4 linked regions of the Homo sapiens genome follow. The protein of the gene in region 2 interacts with the protein of the main gene of each other region in a biochemical or structural test. Each region holds a gene or a part of one and is shown on either strand. Other genes may lie near its edges.

What was found.
Region 1: the proteins of FOXO1 (region 2) and PITX1 form a complex in vitro, tested with the Homo sapiens proteins (one study listed by BioGRID).
Region 3: the proteins of FOXO1 (region 2) and ESR1 form a complex in vitro, tested with the Homo sapiens proteins (2 studies listed by BioGRID).
Region 4: of the proteins of FOXO1 (region 2) and AKT1, one has a biochemical effect on the other in vitro, tested with the Homo sapiens proteins (4 studies listed by BioGRID).

Annotation. Positions count from the first base shown.
Region 1 is NC_000005.10:135,031,217-135,038,693, forward strand, and holds the start of PITX1 (pituitary homeobox 1), read right to left. Parts: upstream 3,013-7,477; 5' UTR 2,734-3,012; coding exon of another isoform or gene 2,666-2,733; coding exon 2,497-2,665; intron 2,325-2,496; exon of another isoform or gene 2,058-2,324; intron 293-2,057; coding exon 60-292; intron 1-59. UniProt on the Homo sapiens protein: Sequence-specific transcription factor that binds gene promoters and activates their transcription. May play a role in the development of anterior structures, and in particular, the brain and facies and in specifying the identity or structure of hindlimb.
Region 2 is NC_000013.11:40,558,642-40,565,664, reverse strand, and holds part of FOXO1 (forkhead box protein O1), read left to right. Parts: exon of another isoform or gene 1-2,976; intron 2,977-4,804; coding exon 4,805-6,142; 3' UTR 6,143-6,156; intron 6,157-6,630; 3' UTR 6,631-7,023. UniProt on the Homo sapiens protein: Transcription factor that is the main target of insulin signaling and regulates metabolic homeostasis in response to oxidative stress.
Region 3 is NC_000006.12:151,838,672-151,845,694, forward strand, and holds part of ESR1 (estrogen receptor), read left to right. Parts: intron 1-3,925; coding exon 3,926-4,116; coding exon of another isoform or gene 4,117-4,122; intron 4,123-7,023.
Region 4 is NC_000014.9:104,771,749-104,778,771, reverse strand, and holds part of AKT1 (RAC-alpha serine/threonine-protein kinase), read left to right. Parts: intron 1-2,001; coding exon 2,002-2,113; intron 2,114-2,972; coding exon 2,973-3,120; intron 3,121-3,564; coding exon 3,565-3,696; intron 3,697-3,768; coding exon 3,769-3,834; intron 3,835-4,791; coding exon 4,792-4,860; intron 4,861-5,191; coding exon 5,192-5,317; intron 5,318-5,392; coding exon 5,393-5,521; intron 5,522-5,679; coding exon 5,680-5,894; intron 5,895-6,319; coding exon 6,320-6,407; intron 6,408-7,023. UniProt on the Homo sapiens protein: AKT1 is one of 3 closely related serine/threonine-protein kinases (AKT1, AKT2 and AKT3) called the AKT kinase, and which regulate many processes including metabolism, proliferation, cell survival, growth and angiogenesis.

The sequences.
Region 1 (7,477 bases), on a different chromosome or scaffold from region 2:
GCAGAGGCGGCCCGGGAGCCCTCTGCGCGGGTGCCCTTAGGCGCGCACCCCTTGCTCACCCGCACGCGCGGCTCGGTGAGGTTGGTCCACACGGCGATCTCCTCCCTCATGCTCATGTCGGGGTAGCGGTTCCTCTGGAACGTGGCCTCTAGCTCTTGCAACTGCTGGCTTGTGAAGTGCGTACGTTGCCGCCGCTGCTTCTTCTTCTTGGCTGGGTCGTCTGCGCCGCCGCAGCCCGTGCCTCCCGCACCACTGTCCTCGGGCCCCTTGGGTTCCCCGCCGCGCTCCTTCTCTGCAGTAGGCAGGACGGGGAGCGGGTCACCTGGGCTTACGCCCCGTTGCACCCCGTCCCGGCTCCACCGAACCGCTCGCCACCAGCGCTGGCGGTCTTCCCTCCCTCCCTCCCTCTAGGGTTCCTGGGAACTGTCCCCACTGGAAAGCGCCCGCCGGGTGCTGGTCGTCAGTAGGCACCTCTAGTCTGGTGTGCCGCGGAGAAGAGCCCAAGAATCGGAGCTGGAGCCGCGGGCCTGCGTTCCTGGCTGGGCAGGGCCTGCACCCTTAGCTCGGCTCAGATTCTGACCCTGCTGCTGATGTTCCCAGCAAATGTATGCTTTTTGTTTGTTTGTTTTGCGAACTCTTAGGGGGTCTAAATCTGAGGGGGTCTCTGCTTTTCTGAACTAGGATCAGATCTCTCCAGCCTAAAGTCCCTCCACTTTCTTCTCCTCAGGGGTGTATGGGAGCCCCACTGGGCAGGCACAACACAGCCGGGTTCTCGGCCTTGCTTCCAGGCCTCCAGTCCCAAAGCCTAGAAAACCCCACCAACTGCAGCCCAGACAGACAGACTCTGTCTAGGTGACCTCGGGCTTTAGTCTGTCTCTCTTTGAAGCTACACAAAACACACGCAGTCATAGAAACATTAATACATAAAGAAAAAGAGTTTAAAAACAAAACACAGAAGCCCAGAAAAGCTCACAGCTCTATGCCTAAAGACACTGAAAGGGCCACAAATTCTCAAAATCAGACAGGAAGAAACACAGAGCAAATGTAAATTAAGAAGCCAGAAAGCTCCGTACAAACACACCCCTAACTAAATACAGAGCTGTAAGTGTATAAACTCCAGGTTGACAGAAGCATTTATTTCTCTGGGATTTAAAAAAATAATGTACCGTTGTAGATAGATTTTTAACTCCTTCCCAATAAGGCCCTTGTAGAGATAATTTTTAAATCCCAGAGAAACACATTATAGTTAGATAATTTAAATTCCCCAAATAACACCACTGTAAATGGATTTTGAGAAAATTCCGGAGAAACGCGCCATTTTGGATTGACTTTTTAAAATCTCCGGAAGAATAATGTTGCATGTAGATATTTTAAATTCCAGACCTACACTTCGTACGTTAATTCTTTCAGAATCGAAAGATACAGTTAAAATTAATTCATCCTCATAGATTTGGTTCAAAAAAATCAATATACGATTATATATCTCTCTAGGTTTTAAAAATAAAACCAACCAAAGACCGCGCTTAAAACTTTTGAAAACAAAAGTAGAGTTCAGCGTTGATTATGTTTTAACCAAGCAAACAACCTCTCAGAAAAATCACTTAGGGATGCAAAAGAGAAACAGATACTAAGAAAGTGGAGAGAAACATTCAGCTGTGTATTAAGAAATGAACGCAGAAGAGGCGCCCACACCGGGGAGCTCGGAGCCCCTCCGGAACCCGGCCGGCTGCGCTGGGCAGCGGATTCGCTGCCCCACTGCCCGCGCCGGCCACCCGCGGGCCCAGTTCGCTGCTGGAAAAAAGCTCCAGCTCGGACAAAAAAAGGCAGCGCGGAGGGAGACGCGCAGGAGCCGGGGCGGGGGCCAGAGCCGGGCTGCTCCGGGCTTCGGCCGCGCACGTGGGCCGGATCCCTTGATCGGCGTTCCGGCTGGCCTTGCTGGGAGTCCGGCCGCGCCTGTTGGCCCGCTCGCCCTCACCGTCCTCTGTGTCTCCCTTCTACTTGATGACCCCTCTCCCCCCGTTTACCCTTCCCGCCCGCCCCTTCTCTTTGGTCTCTTTCATTCTGTCGCCTACTGTCACGGTGTTAACCTCCCTCTCTGTCTCTCTGAGTGCGTTCTCTCGCCCGTCACCCCTCTTCCTTTCTCGGTCTCCTCCTCTCCCTTCGTCCGAGCCGCTCCTTAGCGCCCAGTTGCGCAAATCAAATTCTTTCCCGTTCTATTTACTCCTGATCAAGAGGGGCTGTCAGTCCAACCCTCCAGCTGTAGGCTCGTGCATCTGCCAGTCTCTTGGCGCGTGGGGACCGCGTGGAAGTGCCTTCGCGTGTGCGTAAGTTTCCGCGTTCACCGTCAGGTCGAGAACGGGAAAAAGAAAGCTCCTGACGCTTCTGGGGCGGAGAGGGAGCTTGGTTGCGCGGCGCGGGCGTCAGGCCCTGCTCCCAGCTCCCCGTGCTCCGCGCCCGGGTAGGCTCTGTGCGCGCCGCGCGGGGAACGGCGCTTACCTGGCAGCTCCGTGTCAGACGACTCGCTGGCGGAGTTCTCGAGCGGCTCGCGGGGGTCGGCGGGCCGGGCCAGGTGGAAGGCGGGCCCCATGTCATGGGGTGGCGGCGGCGGCGGCCGGAGCCCCTCCGGCAGCCGCTCCAGGCTCATGCCCCCCTTGAAGGCGTCCATGGAGGTGGGGACCGCGGCGGGCGCTCCAGGGGCCGGGGCTGGGCGCGCCCCGCCGCCCTGGCTGCGACCTGCGGGGACAAGAGCGCAGCGCCTAAGCGGCTGCCCTCCAGGGCTGCCGGCGCCTGCAGCGACGCCGTGCCCGCCCCATGGACCGCCCGGGGCTGCGGCGCCGGGCGGGCAGAGGCGGCGGCAGCTTCTCGCGACTGGGCGCCTGGCTCAGCGCTCCGCGCTGCGCTCCTGCCGCTCGGGCCTCAGCAGCCCGGCCGGCCCCGGCTCCGGCTCCGGCTCCGGCTCGCGATCCGGGGCCGGTTTCTAAGGCTCCGGACGGCGCCGGCAGAGTCTGTCTTAAAGCGACAGCGCGCACAGCCAGGTTCCAGCAGTCCCTGCGCCAGGGGTGCTGGGTGGGGTGGGCCTGGGTGGGAGGGGGCTGGGGAGGGAGCGAGCGAGCGAGGGAGCGCGGGCGGAATCCAGCCCCAAGCCGCCCGCGCCGCCGCGCCCTCACTGCCGCCCTCCCTCCCTCCCTGCCTCGCCCGCGCCCTCCCCCTCCGCAGCCACCTTCCCGCCGCCTCCCCGCCCCCCGCGGCCTCGCCGCGCCTCTCCCTCCTTCCCCGGTGACACACCGAGTTCTCCCTCGGCCTCACAAAAGAAACGCATCTGGCCTGCGAGTCCCGGGCGGCTCGTGCACACCTCAGGCCTCAAATGACTTGTTTCGCCTAGAATCAACTCCCGTCTCGGCCGCCTCGAAGTCCCCAGCCCTGGCGAGAACAGCCCAGGATGAGTGAATGTTTGCCGAACAGGATCGCACCGAGCGGGCGCCTTCGAGCCAGCGCCGGGGCGGGGGCAGAGCCCGGGGCCCGTTCCGGCAGCTCCCAGCGGTGTCCTCGTCGAGGGGCCGCCTGCCCCTCCTTCTCCAGCCTCTTCTCCCGGGAACTCAGCCCGGCTGAGTGACAGCAGCCTGCGCTCTAATGGGCCCCCGGATGCTGCCTCCTAATTAGCTTGGACCTTCTCCCCTACGGCTGCTTCTCAGGCCTCCCTCTCTGCACCGCAGTCAATTTTCCGGGATTGGGATAGAAATGATGGCTTCTAATCAGACGAAACGTTTCTGCTGGCTCTAGGCGTTTGGAGAATGCAGAAGGAAGACCCCAAGGATCCCAGCCAGACCCCACAGCCTCTTGTACCTCTCCCCTTGTTTTACACCTTAGGCCTTGGCCAAATGGGCCAGGCCTGGCCTTGGCAGGCATGGGGTTGGCCTTGGCAGCCTTTGCCCTCCTTCAGGGTAGCTTTGTCCCAGCCTGGGGCCTGCGTCCTGGCTTCCCAGGGCTTCAGGCATAGGCCTGGTAAGCCAGGTGACTGCTGTCTCCCAACCCTGGGCCAGCAGCCCAGGAAGCCCTCAGTCTTCCAGCTTCTCTCCCACACAGTGGTAGCTGAGCTGCAGCTCCAATGGGCCTTCACTGGGCACAGGCAAAGACATTACTCTCCCACTCCTAAGAGTGATTCCCTCCTCGAGTCCTTGCACGTAGGTGAAGTTTGTCGAAGGATTTTGCTCAACAATTGTTAGCTGGCCCCGAGACCTCAGCGTCTTGAGCAAACAGGCCACAGCTGGGGCGGCAAGGCGCCGCCCTGACCTGCTCCTCTGGCCATAGGCGGACCCCAGACTGCCCTCTGCCCCTCACCTGTGATCAGCTCCACCAGACACAGCAACCCAAGGGAGCTGCGCCAGGATTGTCTGCCTGGGAAAGAAGCAGGGAGGTGTCCAGTGTCCTCACCCCAAAACCCAGTGCCTCCTCAACTCCTGGGTGGGTGGCACTGACTGTGCAGGTATCAGCGTCTGGGGCACTCTGCAGGTTCTGCCTTTGAGTCCTCGTCTTACCCCTTCCCATCACAGGGAGACACCCAGGGTCAGCTGAGCTCCTTGTGGGGGCTGCTGGGGCCAGGGTCGGGCATGCAGGGTGGAACCAGGCCTGCCTTCCATTCCCTCCACGTTAGTCCAAAGCACCCCCACCCCTACCCCCATCCCCATCCCCATCCCCATCCCCATCCCCATCCCCATCCCCCGCTCTGGGCCGTGGAGAGACAGCACAGCTCCTTAGGGCCTGGTCCTTTCTCACTGTGGGTCTGTGACCACAGGATGCAGGGTCTGAGGCCAGAGGGAGGACACTTCTCAGGGGTTTGGATTGGGGAGGCTCAGTGACTCCTGCCTTCTTCCAAGCTGAGATCTCCCTCCATGAAATGAGTCTTGGCTACGGGGAGGGGAACATGGGGAAGCACAGTTGCCCAGCATTTGCCCTCAGCCCCACCGTTGCCATGTTTCTTGGCCACCTTTACCACGAGTCTCCTGCAGTAGAAGATCCCTCCTTTCAAGGAGATATTCAGGTGTTGCAGCGTGCTAGGGAGTGTCCCTTCACAGACCATTCTTTTTTTAGCTGTCTTACCAAAAAGAACAGCCTGAATGCAGACAGCATGGGGGCACGCACACACACACACATCCTGTACATCCATGCGGAGATGCTGTACACACACATGTATTCACTGCACTATGGAAGTGCTGAGTTTAGGCATATATGTGCTACTTGGCATGAACGCGGGCTGGCAGGGGATAGGAGGTGTGTTCTAACCCTGCCACATGTCAGGCCAAGGTGGGAAGCACAGTGCGTCTCTGGGTAGAGACTTAGAAATGAATGGTCTGTCTGTGGGCCTCTAGAGGAGGTTAAGACTCACAGCCTTCTCACTTGCCTTCTCACTTCCCAGAGGGACCAAAGTGACTCTTTGGGCCATCCCCCAATGGGGACTATTCTGTGAGCAGCACTCACTGCTTAGTCTGAGGGGCGTGTTTCCTCACTGTTAGTGCATTTAATGCAGTTATTGAGCACCTGCTGTGTGCCCCTCTGGGCCCAAACCTCTGGCAGGGCTCCAGGCAGGCACAATAGTCCCTTTATTTGGTGATCTTGATGCCTGCTGTGTAGAAGGAAAAGCCCTCAGACCATTTCAGGTGAAGCCCCATATCCTCAGGGGACCTGAGACCCAAAGAGGAGCTGGGGCTAGTGGGGCCTGCTGGCAGAGTCTGTTCTGCTGGGCCTGGGCAGCACTGAGTGATCAAGGAGTGAGGAGGCAATTGATTGTGAGGAGGCTGTGGCCTGATCTTGGGCGTTGGCTGGGGAAGGGACCTGGACATGCTCTCAATTCTTCCCCAGCTACACTCACTGGCCATTGTCCCAGTCAAGATAGGGGCTTCTTGCACGCTCACAGACACGTCACACATACAGGACAGAAAACAGCACTCTTTCAGGAGTAAGCAGAGGCTTTGTGTTCCCCCAGCTGTGCTATGTGACCTGTGTTTCCCTCAAGGTTAAGGCTTGATCTGCACTGTGCCTCAGTTCCCATGTCCAACACCGGACTCTGCCTGCTGCTTCAGCATCCAGCTCACTTGCTGATGGGACACGAAGAGAGGAGGGAAGGGGGCTTAGTGGAGCTGGAACCATGTGCCCTGTTCCCCACCCCTCCGTGACCACACAAAGCCAGCAATGATTCTCTGATTTTCAAGAATTTTGGAGTTTAGGGTCTTGGCTGGGCTGAGCAGAAGAGCTTGGGCTGTTGTGGGGTTGAAGTAGTCACCATGAGGACCCTTCCTGAAGCCTGGCTCACTAAAAACACCCTGTGCCCAAGAATGGTTTAGTAATGTAATTTGGGAAGGGTGGTTGGAAGGCTCTCAGTGGGGGGGCATCCTTCTACCCACCCACGGGGGCACCGTGCCCTAATCCTTGCTCCCAGAATCAAGGTATTTTAGGAAAAAGGAAGGAATGTGCCATGGCCTGCCACCAGGGCTATCCATGACTCTCTGGGACATTCCAGCCCTAAGCCTCTTAGTCCGTGGAGAAGTTCAAACTTGAAAACCCTGTTTTGGGAGTGCAGGTTTGGACCACCTACCTCTTTCTGCCTGATCTAACACCCCCTCCCCAATAAAAGCTCCCGTTTCTTTGAATACAGCAATTACTGGGTAAGTGGGGAGGAGGGTGCTCAGGTAGGGGCTGGAAAGACCTCACTGGCTCCTTTAGGCTTCCTGGGACCCCAGTCTGAGGCTTCCTGCCAAATGGGGATCCCCAGCCTGTCCCGGGGAGAGCCAGGATGTATTTGAGCAGGACTGCCGCCAGTGAGGCACAGATGGGAGTATGGAACTCAGGACTCTGTGCCGTGGGCCGCTCAGTCAGCGGCTGGTAGGACCCATGGCTCTACCCGGCCCATCTCTCACCTAAGTCCATGGACGCTGTCTGGTTCCTGAGAATGGCTGAGCTGTGGGGAAGAAGACTAGGAAGGAGGTAGCAGCTGGTCGCACAACTGGGGAGCAGAGGGGCAACTTATGGATGCACCATAGCCTCCTCCTCCCAGCGGCTGCTTTCATGGGAGAAGAGCACCCTGAGCCTGTCTGGAGGCCTCTGCATCCTAGAGTCCAGACAGCCTGGTCTCCAAGCCCCAGCCCACCTCTTTTCCTTTCCCTGGAAGAGATGCGGGAGGCCGAAAGCAGCCCCGGGAAAGGGCACGGGGACAGCAAGTCTCCTGTGCTGCCCCTGCTGCCTGTAGCTTTTGCCCTGACTACCGTAGACCTGAACCCTAGACCTGAATCCTCCCCCAGTGGACAGCAACCTGGGATTTCCTCCCTCTGGCCCTGGTGGCTTTCAGAGGTCACAGGGATGTCAAGAGAATTTGTGTTTTTCAGAATTTAGTTTTTCAGAAAAGTGGACTAAATATTTGTAGATTCGGGGAATTCCTAAATCGGAAAAGCTTGGGACCCGGATTCCAGCCTGGGGTTCCCATTAC
Region 2 (7,023 bases):
TACTTGAGTGCCCCTATGGTGTTGGTGCTGTGAGGATACAGTGTACAAGAAGACAGACAAAGGTCCCTGTGCTCACTTGAGCAGCTCACAGTGTAGTGGGAAGTCAGGCATGCCCCCCCACCGCCCCAGGGATCAGACATAGTGGAATCATAAAGAGGGGTGAGTAAGTAAGGTCCCATGTTAGAGCTGCAGGATGGGATGAGGTCATCAAGAAATGCTTCTGGAGGGGCCAGTTGGGCTGAGACAGAAGCTGGGGCATGGAGGGCAGGGTGGCAGCCTTTGGAGAGAAAAGGTCCGTGTTCCTGGACAGTCTATGGGTTGTGTCATCCTATTAAGTGGCTCTTTACGTGTACTTATTTTCTCCCCAGGTAGATCAAAAGCTTCTGGAGGGCATGTTCTGTGTCTCATTCCTTCATGTCTTTCGCTACTCCTTCCACAAAATAGTTTCCAGTAAATGTTAGTTGACATGAATTGGTACTCAAATGGATGGTTAAAAGATGTGTATTGTGTAAGACACCATATCTTCCTTGTAATTTTTTTGGGGGTCAAGCAACAAACAGTTATTGAGGCTATGATATTAGAAATTAAAGACAAGCTTTAGCCCATTTGCTCTTTAAGGAACTCAGAATCTGAACATAGAACAGCCAGCAGAGCAGGTTGAACAAGCAAGTACACCATGTCGGGGTTCCCCGACTACACCATGTCGGGGTTCCCCGACTCCCCCATCTGTGGAGCTCATTGGGTCAGGCTTCCCAGGAAGCACATGCTGCACTGCTTGGGGTGGCCAGGCATGCAGATGGCAGATGGGGTGTGTGCAGAGGCTTGTGAGTGGGGCTGCAGAGAAACAAGCTAGTGGAGAGGAGATTGGCTGGCTTGTGTTTCTCTAGTGCCGTCATGTAGAAACGCTGGATTTGGGCAAGTGATTGACAGGGCATGAACCTCTGTCCTGACATCCTGCCTCTGTCCTCAGGTAATATTTGTTGAGAGTTCAAGGGCATAATATTTCAGAGCCCAGCAGTCTCACGCGGCTCTGCTGCGAAGTCCTTCTGGTGAACTGCTCTTCCATCCAGCCTCTCCTGTGGCCAGTAGGGGAGTGCAGACACAACGTCGTTAATAGCAACACATTTTTACAAAATTTACCTTTTCAAACCCCACCCCCTAGAAACCGTAGCTTCTTTAATGTCCCGCTGGCTGTGTGAAAAACAGGAATTTATGTAACAAGTCCTGCACAGCAAACCTTTTCCTGTTCGGAAAAAATTTTAATTGTTGGCAAAGTTAGGAAACAGCTCTGTTACTCAAAGAGCGACCTGAAATGTCCTCTTAGAAAAATATGTAATATGATGTTTTGATAAGTAGGAGACTGCTGTGGCTTTTTTTTTTTTAAAGTCTAAATTAGTATATGTCCCACCTGAGTTAGTGAACGCTTCTTGAATGTTTTAAAGATTTCCTTATTATGTCTCCTGCAGTCTTTTTAAAAATGACCCCCAGCTGGGCTTGCCAGTGATCTGACAGGCTTATCATGAATGTTAGAGAGCTTCACCCCCTCTCCCCAAGTCAATGCAACAACCAGGAAGCTTCTATCTGGGAAGATCTTTCTTCCCCCTTTATCATTAACTAAATGTGACAGGGACAGGAGTCAAGCTTCCTCTCCTCCAGAGATTTCATCGGAGCTTATCTGTGTGTCTATTGTGTTCAAAGAACAAAACTGTCATGATGGAATATTGTGCAAATGCCTGGACTTCCAGTGTATAGAAAATGTCAGGGTCAGACTGCAGGGCTGCATTCCAGTGCTACCCCAAGTGCGGGCCTGCTGATCTTAAGGAGGAATTAAGAACTCGGTTCGGCTGGGGTTGGTGGGTACAGCAGACAAGGCTGTGGCTCTGTGAGCATACATGTGTGTGTGTGGCGCCTTCCCATAGGAATTTGGGGATCTTAGGGGAATGCAATAGGATGGGAGGGAAATGTACTCCCTGGCCTCTTTTAGGGATTCTTGTACCTACTCTAAGCCCCTGGCCCTCCTCACAGCGTGTCTCGAGGTGAGGGTAGATCTTGGGTGTGGAGGAAGGTGGGGATTCTTGGGAACAGGAGACAGTCACTGCCATCACCACACACCTGCTCCGTTCCAGCCGGGAATCTGGGGCTCCGGTGGTGTCTTCCCCGCTCTCACACTTCACTGTATGCTCTGGCAGGAGGGCTTGTCACGTAGCTGCTGTGTTGAAATCTTTAGGCGGAATGCAGTACAGAGAGTCAGAGGGCGTTTTGAAATGTGGATTTCTCAGCCCTGACTGCTGGGCCTTACCCTGACTTTTGCATCTCCCTTTAGAAAGTGAGACCCCTCCATTTTCTCTCTTCTACCACCTTTTAATGAGAGAAGACTTCTCTCCCAGTTTGTGTTGGAGCCAGGCCTCATCCTGCTGTGCAGAGGCTCTGCTCAGGCGCAGTGGTTGGCACTCGGGCCCGGGCGTCCCATGTCAATGGCATGAGGATGTGGGCGCTGTGGCTGCACCCCTGGGTGACCACAAATCCAGCCAGAGCCTTTTTGTGGTTGAGAAGAGGGGCCGCAGAGATGCAGGGGGCATGGTCAGCTGAGCCTTGCATCCAGTTGGCAGAGGAGGCCAAGAAAGCTGGGAGACTGTGCACATTCCAGGGTCTTAGGGCACCCAGAATCCCACTCCTTGGGAGCAGACCTCTGAGGAAAGAGGCTGCTGAATGAACAAGGTGTAGTGGCTGTGTGCCCTGTACTGTGCTGGGGGCCAGAAGCTATAAGACAAGGCCCTTCCTTCTGGGGAGCTCACAGCGTTTCCCTCGTCTCCTTTTCCACGTGTCCCACGGACTCCCCTGAACACCATCTTACTCTGTGTTGTAGAGGAGGTGAATCAAACCATGGCTTTCTCATCTGCAGCCTGGCTCTGGTGTTTCTGCTGAAACTTGGAGAGACCACCTCTGGCCCCTTTCACCATATATTTGCAGTTGTGGGTTTGTATCTGTACTACTTCTAAGCTCCTATACATACCACACTGAATAGGAATAGAGAAGCAGGACTTTGGGGCGCAGGATACCACTATTCTAAGTTGGGGTCTAATATTCCCTTCATGGTGACTGCTTACATGCCAGGCACCGCTGAGCATTTTTATGTATCTCATTTAGTACATGTAACAACCCTGATAAGGCTCTGTAATTTAGCCCTGCTTTACAGGTGAGGAAACTTAAGACACATTAGGGGCTAGGCAGCTTCCCAAGGTCACCTAGGTAAGTAAGTAGCAGAGCCACCCAGGAAGTACTCAAAAGAAAGATTGTTGGTTTTTCTTCCCTAGTTGGCCTAGGGATGATAAACATGGCATGATTAGTTATGAAGCTGCGGTAGCTTGAGAGTTAGAGCTCTTTGCGTTCTCTGTCATTTCTTCCCATCCCAGGTTGTCTGTTTGGACAGTGTAGCCCCTGGCTACGTGGAGGTGTGTCATGGAGTTAGTTGGTGCATCCTGCTCATACTACTGGTCATTGGTAGAACTGGAGGGTAGGGGCACTACTTGAATTAAAAAAAAATTTCTTTTGGCAGGTCAGCTTTCTCAAATACAAAAGCAATGACTCTGTTTTCCTTACATTCACTTGTATTTGCTTAATGGGCTTTAAAGGTGTGAATGAATCCAAGTCTTATTAATTTGGGGGCCTTTAATTCTTGATCAGCTCTATATTTCTATATTCTTTTTTTTTTTTTTTTTTTGGCGACAGAGTGTTTAACTCTTGTTGCCCAGGCTGGAGTGATCTCAGCTCACCGCAGTCTCCTTCTCCTGCCTCAGCCTGCCAAGTAGCTGGGATTACTGGCGCCTGCCACCACACCCGACTAATTTTTGTATTTTTAGTAGAGATGGGGTTTCACCATGTTGGCTAGGCTGGTCTTGAACTCCTGACCTCAGGTGATCTGCCTGCCTTGGCCTCCTACAGTGCTGGGATTATAGGTGTGAACCACCATGCCTGGCCTATATTCTATATTCTATATATTCTATATTCTTTTGTCTTTTTTGTTTCTGTAAGTATGTGGGCCCAGTAATATAAAACTTCTTTATGTAAATGGCACAGGTTCAAACTGAAGAGAATTGGCAGTAGTTTTAAGGATAGTAGAATGGAAGGGGTTTTTGATAGCACTTTGATACAGAGTACTATTGTAGCTAAGCAAAATTTAAGCGGTTATTAAAACCAATTCCTTTGATTTTTCCATAAAATGTAGCTGTATAAAAGAAGGTATTTACAATACTCTTTATTAAATTTTGTCCCTTCATTAAATTAAGATATAGAATTTTTTTTTTTTTTTTTTTGAGATCGAGTCTCACTCTGTCTCCCAGGCTGGAGTGCAGTGGCACGATCTCGCCTCACTGCAAGCTCCGCCTCCCAGGTTCACGCCATTCTCCTGCCCCAGCCTCCCGAGTAGCTGGGACTACAGGTTTGCACCACCATGCCTGGCTAATTTTTTGTATTTTTAGTAGAGATGGGGTTTCACTGTGTTAGCCAGGATGCTCTTGATCTCCTGATCTCATGATCCGCTTGCCTGGGCCTCGCAAAGTGCTAGGATTACAGGCGTGAGCCACCGCACCCAGCCACAGATATTGTTTTTAAGATAAGATACTATTTATTCCTGTGCTATTTGAGATCTTTTGTAGTGGCTTCAGAGCCATTAGGACTGTTCAGATGGAAATCTGTAGCACACACTCTTAAGATTTTTTACTTGTTTTCCATGTAATACATGTAGAATAGGAAGTTTTGCAAGCAGAGAAGTATTGTACTTCTAATAAGATGTTTTGCCTTACAGAATTCAATTCGTCATAATCTGTCCCTACACAGCAAGTTCATTCGTGTGCAGAATGAAGGAACTGGAAAAAGTTCTTGGTGGATGCTCAATCCAGAGGGTGGCAAGAGCGGGAAATCTCCTAGGAGAAGAGCTGCATCCATGGACAACAACAGTAAATTTGCTAAGAGCCGAAGCCGAGCTGCCAAGAAGAAAGCATCTCTCCAGTCTGGCCAGGAGGGTGCTGGGGACAGCCCTGGATCACAGTTTTCCAAATGGCCTGCAAGCCCTGGCTCTCACAGCAATGATGACTTTGATAACTGGAGTACATTTCGCCCTCGAACTAGCTCAAATGCTAGTACTATTAGTGGGAGACTCTCACCCATTATGACCGAACAGGATGATCTTGGAGAAGGGGATGTGCATTCTATGGTGTACCCGCCATCTGCCGCAAAGATGGCCTCTACTTTACCCAGTCTGTCTGAGATAAGCAATCCCGAAAACATGGAAAATCTTTTGGATAATCTCAACCTTCTCTCATCACCAACATCATTAACTGTTTCGACCCAGTCCTCACCTGGCACCATGATGCAGCAGACGCCGTGCTACTCGTTTGCGCCACCAAACACCAGTTTGAATTCACCCAGCCCAAACTACCAAAAATATACATATGGCCAATCCAGCATGAGCCCTTTGCCCCAGATGCCTATACAAACACTTCAGGACAATAAGTCGAGTTATGGAGGTATGAGTCAGTATAACTGTGCGCCTGGACTCTTGAAGGAGTTGCTGACTTCTGACTCTCCTCCCCATAATGACATTATGACACCAGTTGATCCTGGGGTAGCCCAGCCCAACAGCCGGGTTCTGGGCCAGAACGTCATGATGGGCCCTAATTCGGTCATGTCAACCTATGGCAGCCAGGCATCTCATAACAAAATGATGAATCCCAGCTCCCATACCCACCCTGGACATGCTCAGCAGACATCTGCAGTTAACGGGCGTCCCCTGCCCCACACGGTAAGCACCATGCCCCACACCTCGGGTATGAACCGCCTGACCCAAGTGAAGACACCTGTACAAGTGCCTCTGCCCCACCCCATGCAGATGAGTGCCCTGGGGGGCTACTCCTCCGTGAGCAGCTGCAATGGCTATGGCAGAATGGGCCTTCTCCACCAGGAGAAGCTCCCAAGTGACTTGGATGGCATGTTCATTGAGCGCTTAGACTGTGACATGGAATCCATCATTCGGAATGACCTCATGGATGGAGATACATTGGATTTTAACTTTGACAATGTGTTGCCCAACCAAAGCTTCCCACACAGTGTCAAGACAACGACACATAGCTGGGTGTCAGGCTGAGGGTTAGTGAGCAGGTAAGTTCACCCCAATATCAAAAGACCTTTTGAAAAATAGAACTTAAAAGCGAGGAACACAGTAACTTGCCATGGTTAGCACATCTTTGATGTCAACTGACTGTCCCTTGCAGAGAGGGATCTTTTATCATTCATTCTCTGTCCTTTTTGCAGCTTACAGTTTTCCTTCTGAGCTTACACAGAAGGAAGCTTCCTTTAACTGCTTTAAAGATTTCTTTTTGACAGTTCGATGGCTGCATCTTTTTAGTAGCTCTTCAATAAATGAATACATTTGATATAAATCAAATGCTGAAGGGTTTTTTGTAAAGTAGAATTTTCCCCATTGAATGATTTTAGAGCTGTTTGAGAAAGCTCTAGCTTTTTGCCCCTAAGTATGTCTGTCACTCTTAACATGTTAAGTTGAATTGATTTTAATTTGGCTATATTTTCATTGTGTGTGTATGTGTGTGTGCGTATGTATGTGTTTTTTCCTAGGTTACACTTAAAAGTACTTCAGATTGTCTGACAGCAGGAACTGAGAGAAGCAGTCCAAAGATGTCTTTCACCAACTCCCTTTTAGTTTTCTTGGTTAAAAAAAAAAACAAAAAAAAAAACCCTCCTTTTTTCCTTTCGTCAGACTTGGCAGCAAAGACATTTTTCCTGTACAGGATGTTTGCCCAATGTGTGCAGGTTATGTGCTGCTGTAGATAAGGACTGTGCCATTGGAAATTTCATTACAATGAAGTGCCAAACTCACTACACCATATAATTGCAGAAAAGATTTTCAGATCCTGGTGTGCTTTCAAGTTTTGTATATAAGCAGTAGATACAGATTGTATTTGTGTGTGTTTTTGGTTTTTCTAAATATCCAATTGGTCCAAGGAAAGT
Region 3 (7,023 bases), on a different chromosome or scaffold from region 2:
TGACAGTCTTTATGGAGTAAGTCTGGGCCAAAATGATAATTGACAATGTTATTTACATGGATTTCTAAGTTGGCTAAAAAAGTTCCTTTATGGTTAGTGAATATAGCCCATGTAGTTTCCCCGTCTTCTTTAGATGCCTTCTATTTCTATGCCCAAAGTCTGCAGTTGATTTTCAGTAAGCTGGGGGTCATCTTAGAGATAAAATGTAGATGAATGGCATTTTGCTGACAGCATACATCTTTGCTATTTCTGAGGAAAATGGGCTCTCGCTATTAAATCTTTTGTCAATATTTATAAAAATAGTATTTACATATTCTATCTATATTGTGGAAACTATACATTTATTGATTCAGTCATTTGATATCAATGTTGTTGAGTCCCTATTCCAAGTGAGGCACTATGCTCTAAGCACATGGCATTTTAAAGATGAATAAGACACCAAGAACTTTGCAGATAGTAATGGAAATGAGAATTAATCAATTGAAGATTAATATAGTAAGTAGCAGAAGAGAAATAAAAAAATCTTCTAGAGAGTTCAGAACAGGGATGTTGATTCAAGTTTATGGGGATTAGGAGTGGCTGGTAAGGGAGGCATTCAGGCAAAAGACATAAAAATGCAGTATTCCCCTCGCACTCATTAGGATGGCTACTATATTAGAAAAAGAAGAGAGTAAGTGTTGGAGAGGATATAGAGCAAATAGAAACCTTGTGCCTTGTTCATGAGAATGTAAAATGGTGCAGCCACTGTGGAAAACACTGGTGATTCCTCAAAAAATCAAAATAGAATTATCATATGATCCAGTAATTCTACTTCTGGGTATATATCTAAAAGAATTAAAAATCTGGGTCTTGAAGAAATATTTGTATACTCATAGTTATAGCAACATTATTCATAATAGCCAAAAAGTAGAAGCAATCCAGATGTCTATAGATGGATGAATGGGTAAACAAAGTCTGTGTAGTATATACAGACAATGGCATATTAGTCACATCATGGACCTTCAGGACATTATCCTAAGTGAAATATGCTAGACACAAAAAGCAAAAGTAGGGTTTCACTTAATGAGGTATCTAGAATTGCCACATTCACAGAGAACAAAAGTAGATTGGTGGCTGCTAGGGGATAGGGGAAGGAGAAAATGGGGAATTATTGTTGAATGGGTATGGAGTTTCAGTTTTGTGAAATGAAAATGTTCTGAAGACTGGTTGCACGATGATGTGAGTATATCTAACATGATTGAATTGATGAACACTTAAGCGTGGTTACGATGGTAAATTTTGTGTTATATATATCTTACCACAATTTAAAAAATATAGCATTTTATTATGTAGGCGTGGGTGGGAAGATACTTGACACATTGGAACTTCTGGCCATGCGTATACTGTTCACTCACTTATTCCTTCATTCATTCAACAAACATGTATTGAATGCTTGCTATGTGCTGGGCACTGAGCTAGATATAACAATTAATAAGGCTTATAAGACATTGAATCTATCAATTTCATGCTTGCTAAATATCTACTCCCACCTCCAAAGGCACTAAGCTTCTACAGTTAGATATTCATAGCTGCTTCCTACTGACTTGAATCATGCATAGGATATTAGTAAACAAGCAATAAAAAGATTTGAGGTTGATGGGGGTGGGTTCAACAGCATGGTGGTGAAATGGAAAGAGATGGGTAACAGAATATGAACTAGAATTGAAAACTGTGAGCCAGTGCTCTCTAATGAACATTAAAAAATAAAGAATTCCTATTTGAGGCTGCCAACCTCAGAACTAAGTTATTTAGAATGGACGAAATTGGCAAAGTCAGACGTACTCAACCCAAGGAGCCAATATTTTGTGAATATTATGGCAAATGTAGTTTGAGAACCACTACCACAAAATTGTGAACCATAATAATGACTGAGAAGGCAGGGAGAGGTTATACAATTTGGGCTAAAAGGAAAGACAGGGCTTGTGAAGGGGAGCGCCAGTGAAAGTCAGTGTGGTTCGGGTATTTGGGTGGGGACTGGAAGCAGGAAGCTTGAGCTTCCTTTGCCAAGAGACCCTGCTGGAAGGGCTATCATCAATTGACTTTAGCTCATCTTAGGATTTTCATTTTTTAAAAAATGTTCACAGGAACCTTCACTCCATCTATACTTTCAATGTCTGCCTACCTTTCTTTCTTATACAACTTTGAACACTCTCTCCATTCATTTAAATATATTATGGAGTGCCAACTACATGCCAGGTACTGTGCTGGGCTCTTATTCCACCTTTATTTGATTGCACATGCCTGCCAAGTCCTGGGCCAATATAACATCTACTCCTATGTCTGGTCTGGCGAGAGATGCAAACTCATCTTCCTCTACTTTCCTTACCTCCTTCCTTCCAGTCTTCTTCAAGTTGTCTTCATTGAGGCAATTTCTTTTACCTGTGTTTTTAATCCCAACTCCTCTAGTTTCCTTCTTGGCTTTATTCTTTTATCTTCCTCTTTGTGCTTTCAAACATTCCCTTTCTCCTGGCCCATGCCCTTCAGTCTACACGAGGCCTTCTCAAGTCTCTTCATTCTAAAAAATTCATTTTCTTGGGTCTTATATTCTTCAGCTGCCACCCTATCTGTATCTTTTCCTATTCTCCTCCAAGTTCTCAAAGGAATGCCTTCCCTCATTTTCATCTCCTTACATTCCATCTGCTGAATTTTGGCTTGTGCCTGTACCTGTCTAAGGAAACTCCTTGCTAAGAGTCTGCTTTGTCAGGTCTGAATTCACTTAACCAGTCTTTGCTTTGTTGGACTTCTCTGCCCCATTTGCCATTCTTGATCATCCTCTCCATAAACCTTTCTACTTAAAGCATTTTACTTCCTTATTTTCTTGGTTTTCCTAGAATCTCCTTACTGTTCATTTTCAGCTTCCTTTCTGTGTTCCTCTTCTCTTCCTACATTTTTTTTTAGCTTTCTACTTTCTTAAAGCATTTTACTTCCTTATTTTCTTGGTTTTCCTAGAATTTTCTTACTGTTCATTTTCAGTTTCCTTTCTGTGTTCCTCTGATTGTCTCTCTTTCTACATTTTTTTTTTCTGTGTTCCTCTGATTTTCACGCAGTCTGGAGTTGTCATGATCAATCATAGCCTACTGCAGCCTCGACATCCTAGGCTCAAGTGATTCTCCCACCTCAGCCTTACAAGTAGCTAGGACTACAGTCACACATCACCATTCTCAGCTAATTTTTTTAAGAAGCATTTTTATAGAGATGGAGTCTTGCTATATTGTGCAGGCTGGGCTCAAACTACAGGGCTTAAACAATTCTCCTGCTTTGGCCTCCCAAAGTGCTGGGATTCCAGGCATGAACCACCATGCTCAGTCTCTACATGTTCCTAAAGAGGAGTTTTGAATATTGAAGAACAGTATTTTCAAATTACATTATTCAAGTTATAAAAACTGATATCCAGGGTTATGTGGCAATGACGTAAAAATTTGAATTGTTATTTTTTTGACACATGTTCTGTGTTGTCCATCAGTTCATCTGAGTTCCAAATGTCCCAGCTGTTTTATGCTTTGTCTCTGTTTCCCAGAGACCCTGAGTGTGGTCTAGAGTTGGGATGAGCATTGGTCTCTAATGGTTCTGAAATAATTGTATATTCCTGCAAAAACATTAAGTCTATTAGAAACCAGCTAATTTCATTTTGTCATTTTTATAGGTAACATATTCTGGTGCAGGTAGTATGTTTTTAAAACAAGTTTGCAATAAACAATTTCCCCTCAAGGTTAATATAATAGGCAACACCTTTTGCTGCAACAGACGGCAAGAGGTAATGAAAGATTAGCTTACATTATGATTCATTATTTCAAAATGTCAGGATAAAGTGGATCTGCTGCATCTCCCAGAGAGTGCATGTTTTGCTTTTCTAATGTTAATGGATTTACTGTTTTTTTCCCCCCAGGCCAAATTCAGATAATCGACGCCAGGGTGGCAGAGAAAGATTGGCCAGTACCAATGACAAGGGAAGTATGGCTATGGAATCTGCCAAGGAGACTCGCTACTGTGCAGTGTGCAATGACTATGCTTCAGGCTACCATTATGGAGTCTGGTCCTGTGAGGGCTGCAAGGCCTTCTTCAAGAGAAGTATTCAAGGTAATAGTGTGTTGAAAACGACTTCTATTTTTGATCCTATGAGCAGATCCTAAGAGCCAAAGCGACTGAGGAAGGAAGACATAGAATCAGCCATTTGTACAAAACATGAATCCCTAGTAGGTCCACTAGTATCTTTGGTAGAAACATGGAGAAGAGACAGGATCTCAGGAGAAGGAGTTGACACATGGCAGGGCAGCTGAGGCTGAGTAATTCCGCTTCCTTCCTTTGGCAAGACTCAATCAGTCTTGAGCAACTCTACAGAAGAATTCCACTAGCTGGATCTCTGAGGAAAAAAGAAATGTTGTCTGTGCCCTGACTGGGGAATGCCAGATGGACATTCATGTTTGGTAGGCAACTTTGCCTATATGATCTGGTATATGCTGTTAATTGTCCATGCATAATTATCTCTCTACTCAGGCCTTGTCCAGGCAAATATTCTGTTTTGTTCTAGTTTAGCTTGTTCTCCCCTTTCTCTCTTCCATCTCTTTCTTGTCTCAATGGATGACAGGATATTTTGCTATGAGCTGACTCAGTGGTTGGTGTCTTGTAATGGGGAGATATCATCTTTATCAAACAGTTATTAAGTATCTACCTGTAGCATTTCATTTTCCCGCCTGCCTCCATTGTTTTCTTGTCTATAGTTTGCCAATTATAGCTAATATACGGAGAGCTATACTTTATTTCTACTCCAGAAATGTCTCTATTATTGCATTATAATAGGATACCCTGGGGAAACACTAATCATTTTTACTACCTAAAATACCTATGCTGAATATCCTTTATCTGATAGGAACAGAGATCTGACAGCAGCTTAGGCTAACCAAATTCATTTTTTATCTTAAGTGTGGGGCATTTTTCTCTCTTCTTATTCTTTACCTTTTCAGCTTAAGTGAAGGTTAGTATAAACACTAAGAATATTTCTGATGGAGTTTTCATGTGATTCCTTCTACAAAAACCCAGATTTAAGTAACTTGTTGAAAACCAGAGTCCGCTAAGTTAATAAACACTGATTGAAGAAGTGATTCTCATGGACTTTCTGTGATAGCTCTTTCCTGCCCTGATATGAGATGAAAGCTGGGGGATGGTATATAGTATTTATTTTTCCTTCCGTTGCCAGTGGGACTTTTTTTTTTTTTTTAAAAGCTGTTCATATCTTAATCGAGTAGCATGTGAGGTCAACATGGTCTATTTTAAAAGCATTTTCTTCGACACATTGCTTTTAACATCTTTTAGAACTCTGCTGTGAGACACATGGACTTTTTTGTTGGTATTTTTATACAATTAATGATATTCTCAATAGTAATCTTTGTGTGTGTATATATATAGAAATAAATTCTAAATGTAAGTTAATATATTTATTATTTTTCTAAACATATATAAATATATATATGCACACAGGCTATTTAATTTTATTAGATGATGCTATTTTAATTCAGAAAAAAATGACATTTATATTTTGATTTAGGTTAGTATAAGCCCTTAGAGGTGTTTTGACAACTCTCTTAATTTGTGGTTTTACTGTTTATTTGATTTTATATAATCTAAAATACCATTGTTTTTACCAAGCATTTAATTTGGCAGTGAAAGAGCGTCTGACAGAGGTATGGTTAGTAGATAGGTCTAACTGCACAACTGGATGGATTGAGCTGAGACTGTTTCCTCATCAGTAAAAATGATTTGAAGCAGTGGTTGGCAAAGTTTTTCTGTAAAGGGCCAGATAATAATATTTTAGGCTTTACAAGGGCCATGCAGTCTCTGTTGCAGCTACCGAACTGGATTATAGCCTGTAAGGTGACCTGTAAACACATGGAAGTGATTATGTGCTAATAAAACTTTATTTATCAGAATAGGTAACAGATCAGCCCTGGCCCGTGGCCGATCCCTGATTTAATGTTTATTTATCTGATCTAAATACCTTTATTTATGGAAGGGAATAGGGGATTTTTAAATCTAAAGTTTTGATTATTCACATTTTACTGAGAACTTACTCTATACCTGATTAGATGTTCCGAGAGAAATAAAAAAAAAGTGTAAGACATAATCCATAATACCACAAAATTTAAAATGTATTTAGGAAATTTATTTGAGGAAGTAAATGTACTTGTTCTCATGATACAATCAGAAAGTAAGTCAGTATTGATAAAGTGTTACCTGTATGAGAAAGATAAGGAAAACAATAGAGAGATGTAAGAAATGAAAATACCAGTTATAAATTAAAATTATTAAGATTGAAAGTGGAAATGATCTTCCTCCGAGAAACAATGGCAATATTCTCACAAATTTTTTACATCATTTTTGTTCAGCATTTAAGATAAAATTATATAAATTCCCATAACATTTAGTATTGTCTCTAAGCATTAAGAACAGAAAAAACAGAAGGAAAATATATTTCTAAAAATCAACGAATACAGTGTGAGATGTTTCATTGGTATGGCATTATCTCAAGTTCAAACATTTTGAAAAATGTCTGCTTACTCTTTGATAGTTAAAAACAAGTATCTCAGCTGGCGTGGTGGCTCAGGCCTGTAACCCCAGCAGTTTGGGAGGCTGAGGCGAGTGGATCACAAGGTCAGGAGATCGAGACCATCCTGGCCAACATGGTGAAACCCCATCTCTACTAAAAATATGAAAATTAGCTGAGCGTGGTGGTGCACACCTGTAGTCCCAGCTACTTGGGAGGCTGAGGCAGGATAATTGCTTGAACCTGGGAGGCAGAGGTTGCAGTGAGCTGAGATCATGCCACTGCCGTCCAGCCTGGTGACAGAGTGAGACTCCATCTCAAAAAACAAACAAAACAACACCACCACCACTAACAAAAACCTCTTATCGCCGTCTTGTATACGCAGACCAGCTAGTAGAATTTTACTGAAACAGTAGCCTATAAAAATGCAATTCCACTTGGTTTCA
Region 4 (7,023 bases), on a different chromosome or scaffold from region 2:
AACTTGCTGGACCCCCAGGTTCTGGTCCAGGGTCTGGGAGGAGGTTAAATGCAGGGAATCCGTCCCCAGGCTGGGCAGGGAAGGACTCCCACCCTTGGTGCCTGCACGTATAAGGGGAGGTGGGGTCAGTCTGGCACCCTGGCTGCTAGGTGGTCTGTGGCCAGCAAACCGTGCCCTGAAGCTTCTAGTTGGGAGGGGCAGAGGCCTTGCCCTGCAAAGCCCCAGGCTGAGGGGCTGGGGTTGGGGTGGGGTTTACCAGGACCTGGTTCCTGTAAGCCGAGGTCTCCTTCCCTGGCTCTTCCAGCCTCAAGCCAGCAGTAGCAGGGCAGCCTGATAGAGTAGGGCACCCCAGGGGTGAGGGGAGACCAGGAAGGCAGACACCCCTGTCTCCTGACAGCCTCGTAACCATGCAGGAGACTCACTGTGACTTGTCCCACACCCTCCCCAGTGTCTCCTCGGTTGGGGCTGGGGGCTTCAGGGATCAGGGAGAGGCTGGGTGCCAGCAGCGTGCCTGGTGGCACCTGGGACAGGGCCTTGCTGGGGGTGGGTGCTGTGGGTGTGCTCGCCAGGCCGAGGCATTGGGAAGGAACGAGGTGGGGAGCTCTCTGGAGAGGCACACGGGTGGGTACCAGCTGGAGGTGTTGCCTGAGCAGCTGGCAAGGCTGGGGCCTTCAGATTAGGCCATAGGTGAGTGGCCTGGAGCGCCTGGCCAAGGAGCAGAGCTGGGCAGGGGCCAGGGGCTGTGCTGGGCCTCTGTCCGGGGCTTTTCTCCGGGGAACGGTTCCGGGGCAGTGGGCTCGAGACTCTGGCCCTGGGGATTGCATACTGGGGCAGATCGGACCATCCAGGAGCGAGTGGGAGGTGGGTGTGCCGGGGCTTCACACCGGTTTCCACTTCTCTGGCCTGTGTTGACACAGGCCACCCTCCCCACCAGGCTGGTCCCGAGCCCCCTCCTGGCCCCCAGGCCTGGAAGACAGCTTCCTTGCTGCCTGGCCAGGCCCCCTTGTGGTTGCCAGGGCCTCGATGCTGGAATGTCAGAGGCCCCCCACTGGCCCCTCAGCCTCCTCCTGCTTTGCACAGGCTGGGCCAGAGCCTGCCACGGAGCCCCAGCGGCTACACACTCCACTCACTCACACCTCTCAGGGCCCCGCACGTTCCCACAGCCCTCAGGGTGTACGTGCTGTAGGTGTGGCTGTGCCCCAGGTATGTGTTCCCCAGGTGTGCTTGTGCCCCAGGTGTGGCTGTGCCCCAGGTGTGCGTGTGCCCCAGGTGTTCGTGTGCCCCAGATGTGGCTAGGTGTCTAGATGTGTTCTAGATGTCTGTGTATTCCAGTGTGGCTGTGTCCCAGGTGTGCGTGTGCCCCAGGTGTGTGCCTCAGGTGTGCGTGTGCCCCAGGTGTGGCTTTGCCTCCAGTGTGTGTGTGCCCCAGATGTATGTGTGCCCCAGGTGTGGCTGTGCCCCAGGTGTGCCTGTGCCCCAGGTGTGGCTGTGCCCCAGGTGTGCCTGTGCCCCAGGTGTGGGTGTGCCCCAGGTGTGGGTGTGCTCCAGGTGGCTGTATTTCCCAGGTACTCAGGGTGAGGTTGGGAAAAAAGCAGGACATTTCTACACTAGGTGGGACAAGCAGGTTTCTGGGGTGCCCCCCTCATGCCAGCCCCTCTGTGGGATCTCCATACCCCTCATCCTCTGAGGCCTGGCGCACGGCGGGGCTCAGAGACTGAAGGAAGGACTGTAGGAGTGGACGATGGTGGGGGTTTGACCTGACGCCGGGCCAGATGCCCTGTGTGGCTGCCTCAGCCTGGAGTAGAGTGTCTGAGCTGGAACAGGGGTCCTAGCCCCACTCTGTGAGGCGAGAAACTGAGGCTTGGAGAGAGGAAGAGATGGGGCTTCCCAGGACCTGGTGGGTGGTATGCAAGGGGAGCTGGCTGGTGCAGCGGGGGCTGTGGTGAGGGCCCTGGGAGGGGCAGGGGGATGCACGCAGACAGAGGCTCTGCCTGCCCGCAGAGTGCCAGCTGATGAAGACGGAGCGGCCCCGGCCCAACACCTTCATCATCCGCTGCCTGCAGTGGACCACTGTCATCGAACGCACCTTCCATGTGGAGACTCCTGAGGAGCGGTACGTGGGCTGTGGCGGCCAGGCCAGGCACTTGGGCAGCCCCAGCGCTTAGGAGGGACACGGGGATGGCGGGGTGCTGGCACCTCTGCCTGTAGCCATCCTCACTCCCCAGTGCTCCCAGGCCCTCCTCAGAGCCCAGTTTGGAAACTGGCCCAGTCCTGCCTGTGGGGTTTGGGTGGGGAAACTGAGGCTGGAGATAAAAACTGGCTAGGGACCGGGTGCAGTGGCTCACGTCTATAATCTCGGCACTTTGGGAGGCCGAGGTGCGCAGATCACTTGAGACCAGGAGTTTGAGACTAGCCTGCCAACATGGTGAAACCCCCGTCTCTACTAAAAATATAAAACTTAGCTGGGTGTGGTGGTGCACACCTGTAATCCCGGCTACTTGGGAGGCTGAGGCACAAGAATCGCTTGAACCCGAGAGGCAGAGGCTGCAGGAGCCGAGATTTTACCACTGCACTCCAGCCAGGGCGATAGAGCAAGACTCCGTCTCAAAAAAAGAAAAACCCGGTGGAGAGGGCCAGTCCTCCTTGGGGGGCGGAGTCCTGCTTGGGAGGCGGAGTCCTGCTTGGGGGGGGCGGAGTCCTGCTGGGGGGCGGAGTCCTGCTGGGGGTTGGAGTCCGGTTGTGGGGACAGAGTCCTGCTGGGGGGCTAAGCCTGGGTGTCCCCCACGTCCAAGAGGGCTTCGTGACCCTGAGTGTATGTGGCCAGACCAGGTCAAGTGGTGGCCTCCTCAGGGCTGTCTCTGGGAACCCCGACAGCTGTGGAACCACGCTTGTGAGGCTGGCGGGTGGGTGAAAGACGTGGGGTGGAGCTCCTGATCTGGTACAGGCCTGCAGCCTCACCTGACCTCCTGCAGGGAGGAGTGGACAACCGCCATCCAGACTGTGGCTGACGGCCTCAAGAAGCAGGAGGAGGAGGAGATGGACTTCCGGTCGGGCTCACCCAGTGACAACTCAGGGGCTGAAGAGATGGAGGTGTCCCTGGCCAAGCCCAAGCACCGCGTGGTGAGGCCTGTCCCCACTTCTGCCTGTGCCTGGGGCTGCCTTGGACTGTGGAGGGCTGGGTGGGTCATGGGGTCCCAGCTCGGCCCAGGAGACACTCAGCACTCCACGGCATCTCCACCTAGGCCGGTTTTCCATGTAGGGCGCAGCTGCTTCCCAGGTGGGTCCTCTTCCCCATGTCAGAGGAAAACTGGGGTTGCTGAGCCCTGCCAGGCTTGGGCAATGTTACCCCACCCTTCCCTGAACCCCATGCTCTGAGCTGGGGCCGCAGCCATGTGTTCCCTGTAAGCCTGGACTCCCCGCTGAGCCCAGTAGGCCACCAGGTGTGAAGTGGACGCCTCTCCTGGCTCTGCCTCCGACTCTGGGGCCCCTCATGCCACCCCACGCATGCCGACCAGCTGGGCACTGTTGGCAGCGCCGCTTGCTGACCCTGGTGCCTGCCCATAGACCATGAACGAGTTTGAGTACCTGAAGCTGCTGGGCAAGGGCACTTTCGGCAAGGTGATCCTGGTGAAGGAGAAGGCCACAGGCCGCTACTACGCCATGAAGATCCTCAAGAAGGAAGTCATCGTGGCCAAGGTGGGGCCGGGGCGGTGGGGCAGGGTGGAGATGAGGGTGCGGGGTGGCAGCTCACCCAGCCCTGCTTTACAGGACGAGGTGGCCCACACACTCACCGAGAACCGCGTCCTGCAGAACTCCAGGCACCCCTTCCTCACAGTGAGTGGGAGCCCAGATGGGGCTGAAGGGCTGGGGCCAGGTAGCGACTCCTGGGGCTGTCTCTAGGGGACGATGTCCTGTCTTCTTGGGCACGTGAGGGCTTTACACACCGTGGACTCCGCCGCTGGTGAGACAGGCCTGCCCTGGAGGGTCAGGCTGTGGAGGTGCCCAGTGTGGGCTAGGGGCTGTGCTCGCTGCTCCCGTGTGCGGGCAGGTGGGTGGGGCAGGTGGCCCTGGTCTTCCTTGCACTCTGCCGAGGCTCCAGGAGGCCCCAGCTCCCCATGCCCTGCAGCCCTGCCTGCCAGGCTTTTGTTGAGGCCCGGGCTCTGTCCTGCAGAACCTGTTCTGGGGACTTGGCCCAGGAGGTATTTACTGTGAAGGGGGCCAGGGTCCAGCCACTTGGTTAGTTCCAGGTCACTGTGTTTGGGGACGATTCTCCTGCAGATGGGGCCTTTGCTTTAAAAGCACAGTCGCCTGTGGTGGAAGGCGGGAGGGTGGGTCTCGCCTGGGAGGGTGTGTCCTCCCTTTGCGAAGGCCCTGGTGCTGGGAGCACTGTCCCCTGCTGAGGTCCCAACTCACCCTGGAGGACCTGAGCCCAGGCCACCTTGCTCACCTTTCAAACACTCCTTGGCACCTCAGGGGCTGCCGGGGCCCAGCCTGATGGTGGCGTGGCATGAGGCAGTGTGGTGTGGGGCAGTGTGGTGTGGGGCAGCGTGGCATGGGGGCAGTGTGATGTGGGGGTGTATGGTGTGGGGCAGTGTGATGGGGTGTGTGGTGTGGGGCAGTGTGGTATCGGGCGGTGTGGTATCAGGCAGCGTGGTGTCGGGCAGTGTGGTGTGGGGCTACGGGCGGTGTGGTATCAGGCGACGTGGTATCAAGCAGCGTGGTGTCGGGCAGCGTGGTGCGGGGCTGCCGTCCTGCCTGTGGGGCCGCAGTTCCAGCTCCCCTTCCTTGCAGGCCCTGAAGTACTCTTTCCAGACCCACGACCGCCTCTGCTTTGTCATGGAGTACGCCAACGGGGGCGAGGTAGGGGCTGGGGCTGCGGGGGATGGACTTCGCGGCCTGTGGGCCGCCCATGGTGGGGCCGGTCCTTCCCGGAGCCTCGGCTACTCTCCATGGCACCAGACGGTGCTCCCTGCTGGGTGGGTGGTGTGATGCCTGCCCAGGCAGCTGCCTGCTGTGGGGTGACTTGTTCCTGCTGAGTTAGGGCTTCTGAGACTTTCCAGGCCCCCGTGCCCTCTGGTGGCTGGTCCCTTCCCTGTGCAATGCCGAGACCCGGTCTGAGAAACCCCAGCCCTGCAGGCCATGGGGGCAGAGGCCCGAGCCACGGCTGTGCCTCAGGTTGCGCCTCCCGCAGCTGTTCTTCCACCTGTCCCGGGAGCGTGTGTTCTCCGAGGACCGGGCCCGCTTCTATGGCGCTGAGATTGTGTCAGCCCTGGACTACCTGCACTCGGAGAAGAACGTGGTGTACCGGGACCTCAAGGTGCGCTGGCGGGCAGGCAGGGGGGCAGGGCCCTGGGGGCCTGGCGGCACTGACCTGAGGCCACCTTTCCCCTAGCTGGAGAACCTCATGCTGGACAAGGACGGGCACATTAAGATCACAGACTTCGGGCTGTGCAAGGAGGGGATCAAGGACGGTGCCACCATGAAGACCTTTTGCGGCACACCTGAGTACCTGGCCCCCGAGGTGTGCGCCCCACCTGCGTGCATACGCGTTGCTGCGTCCCCACGTCCTGAGCACACGCAATGCTGTGTCCTCTCTGTGCCCCAAGCACGTCACACCTCCCCCGGCAGTGTCCCGGACACCCCTTGATGCCGAGTCCTGCCCATCTGCCACCCGTGCAGGTGCTGGAGGACAATGACTACGGCCGTGCAGTGGACTGGTGGGGGCTGGGCGTGGTCATGTACGAGATGATGTGCGGTCGCCTGCCCTTCTACAACCAGGACCATGAGAAGCTTTTTGAGCTCATCCTCATGGAGGAGATCCGCTTCCCGCGCACGCTTGGTCCCGAGGCCAAGTCCTTGCTTTCAGGGCTGCTCAAGAAGGACCCCAAGCAGAGGTGAGGGCCGCCCATCCCAGCTACAGGCTACACCTCCATCCCCTCATCCCCAGGCTGCACCTGCCCCTGCGCCAGGCGGTCCTGGCACCTCCCAGACTACACTGATAGCCAAAGCTTGATGTCCTTGGCCAGGGCTGATCTCCAAAGCCTCAGGCCCAAGCAGAGTGGCGGGCAGGCCGGGGTCAGTTGGGCCTCTGTCCCCAACCCTGCAGCCTGCACCCACCCACTCAGGAAGCCCCTGCCCTGCCGTGAGCTCTGTGGTGCTTTGCTACCCACAGCTGCTCAGGGACGCTGCACCACCGGCTCCCCTCCCTGGCCCCGGAACGTCCTGTCTGGCGGGCCCTACATCACAGGAGGAAGGGGCCTGAACCCAGGGCCTGGGCAGGTGGCGGTACCGACACTGTGGCCTTGTTTCCTGCCTGCAGGCTTGGCGGGGGCTCCGAGGACGCCAAGGAGATCATGCAGCATCGCTTCTTTGCCGGTATCGTGTGGCAGCACGTGTACGAGAAGAAGGTGCGGCTGCTCCCCGCATATTCACGCGCACGCATGCTCCCCACATATCCACACTCACGCATGCACGTGGCACGCTCGCCAGATTTCCCACACACTCGCCCTCACCTCAGGAGCCTGCTGCAGTCCTGGTACAAGGAGGGCCTTGCTGCACCAACCTCAGCGCCTGGTGCTCAGAGGCTCTGGCACTGCCGGGTTCCACCAGGAAACTGGCCTGGTCCTCATTTCCTCCTCCCCTCGGAGGTGTGTCACACTCTGAGTTTCCTCCTCCCCTCGGAGGTGTGTCACACTCTGAGTGCCAGCCTTGGGGTTCCCTTCCCTGACGCTGTGCAGTGAAGGCTGGCTGGTGGTGGACCAGGGGTGCTGCCCCTTGGCCTCCACGAGTTCCTCCTGTTTGACCTCAATCCCTTCTGCCGCAAGGAGAGCCCAGCCCTATTTCTGGCTGTGCAGGGACAGGGACAGCACCTACTTTTCTGGCACATGGGGGAGTCCGCCCTGGAGGGAGGCAGCTCTTTCTGCATGAGTCGCCATCCTGGGTGCTCATCTTTCAGGGACCCTAGGAGCCCTGGCCATCACCCCAGCTGATGGGGTCTGCCAGCTGGGTTCGGAAGCCTGCACT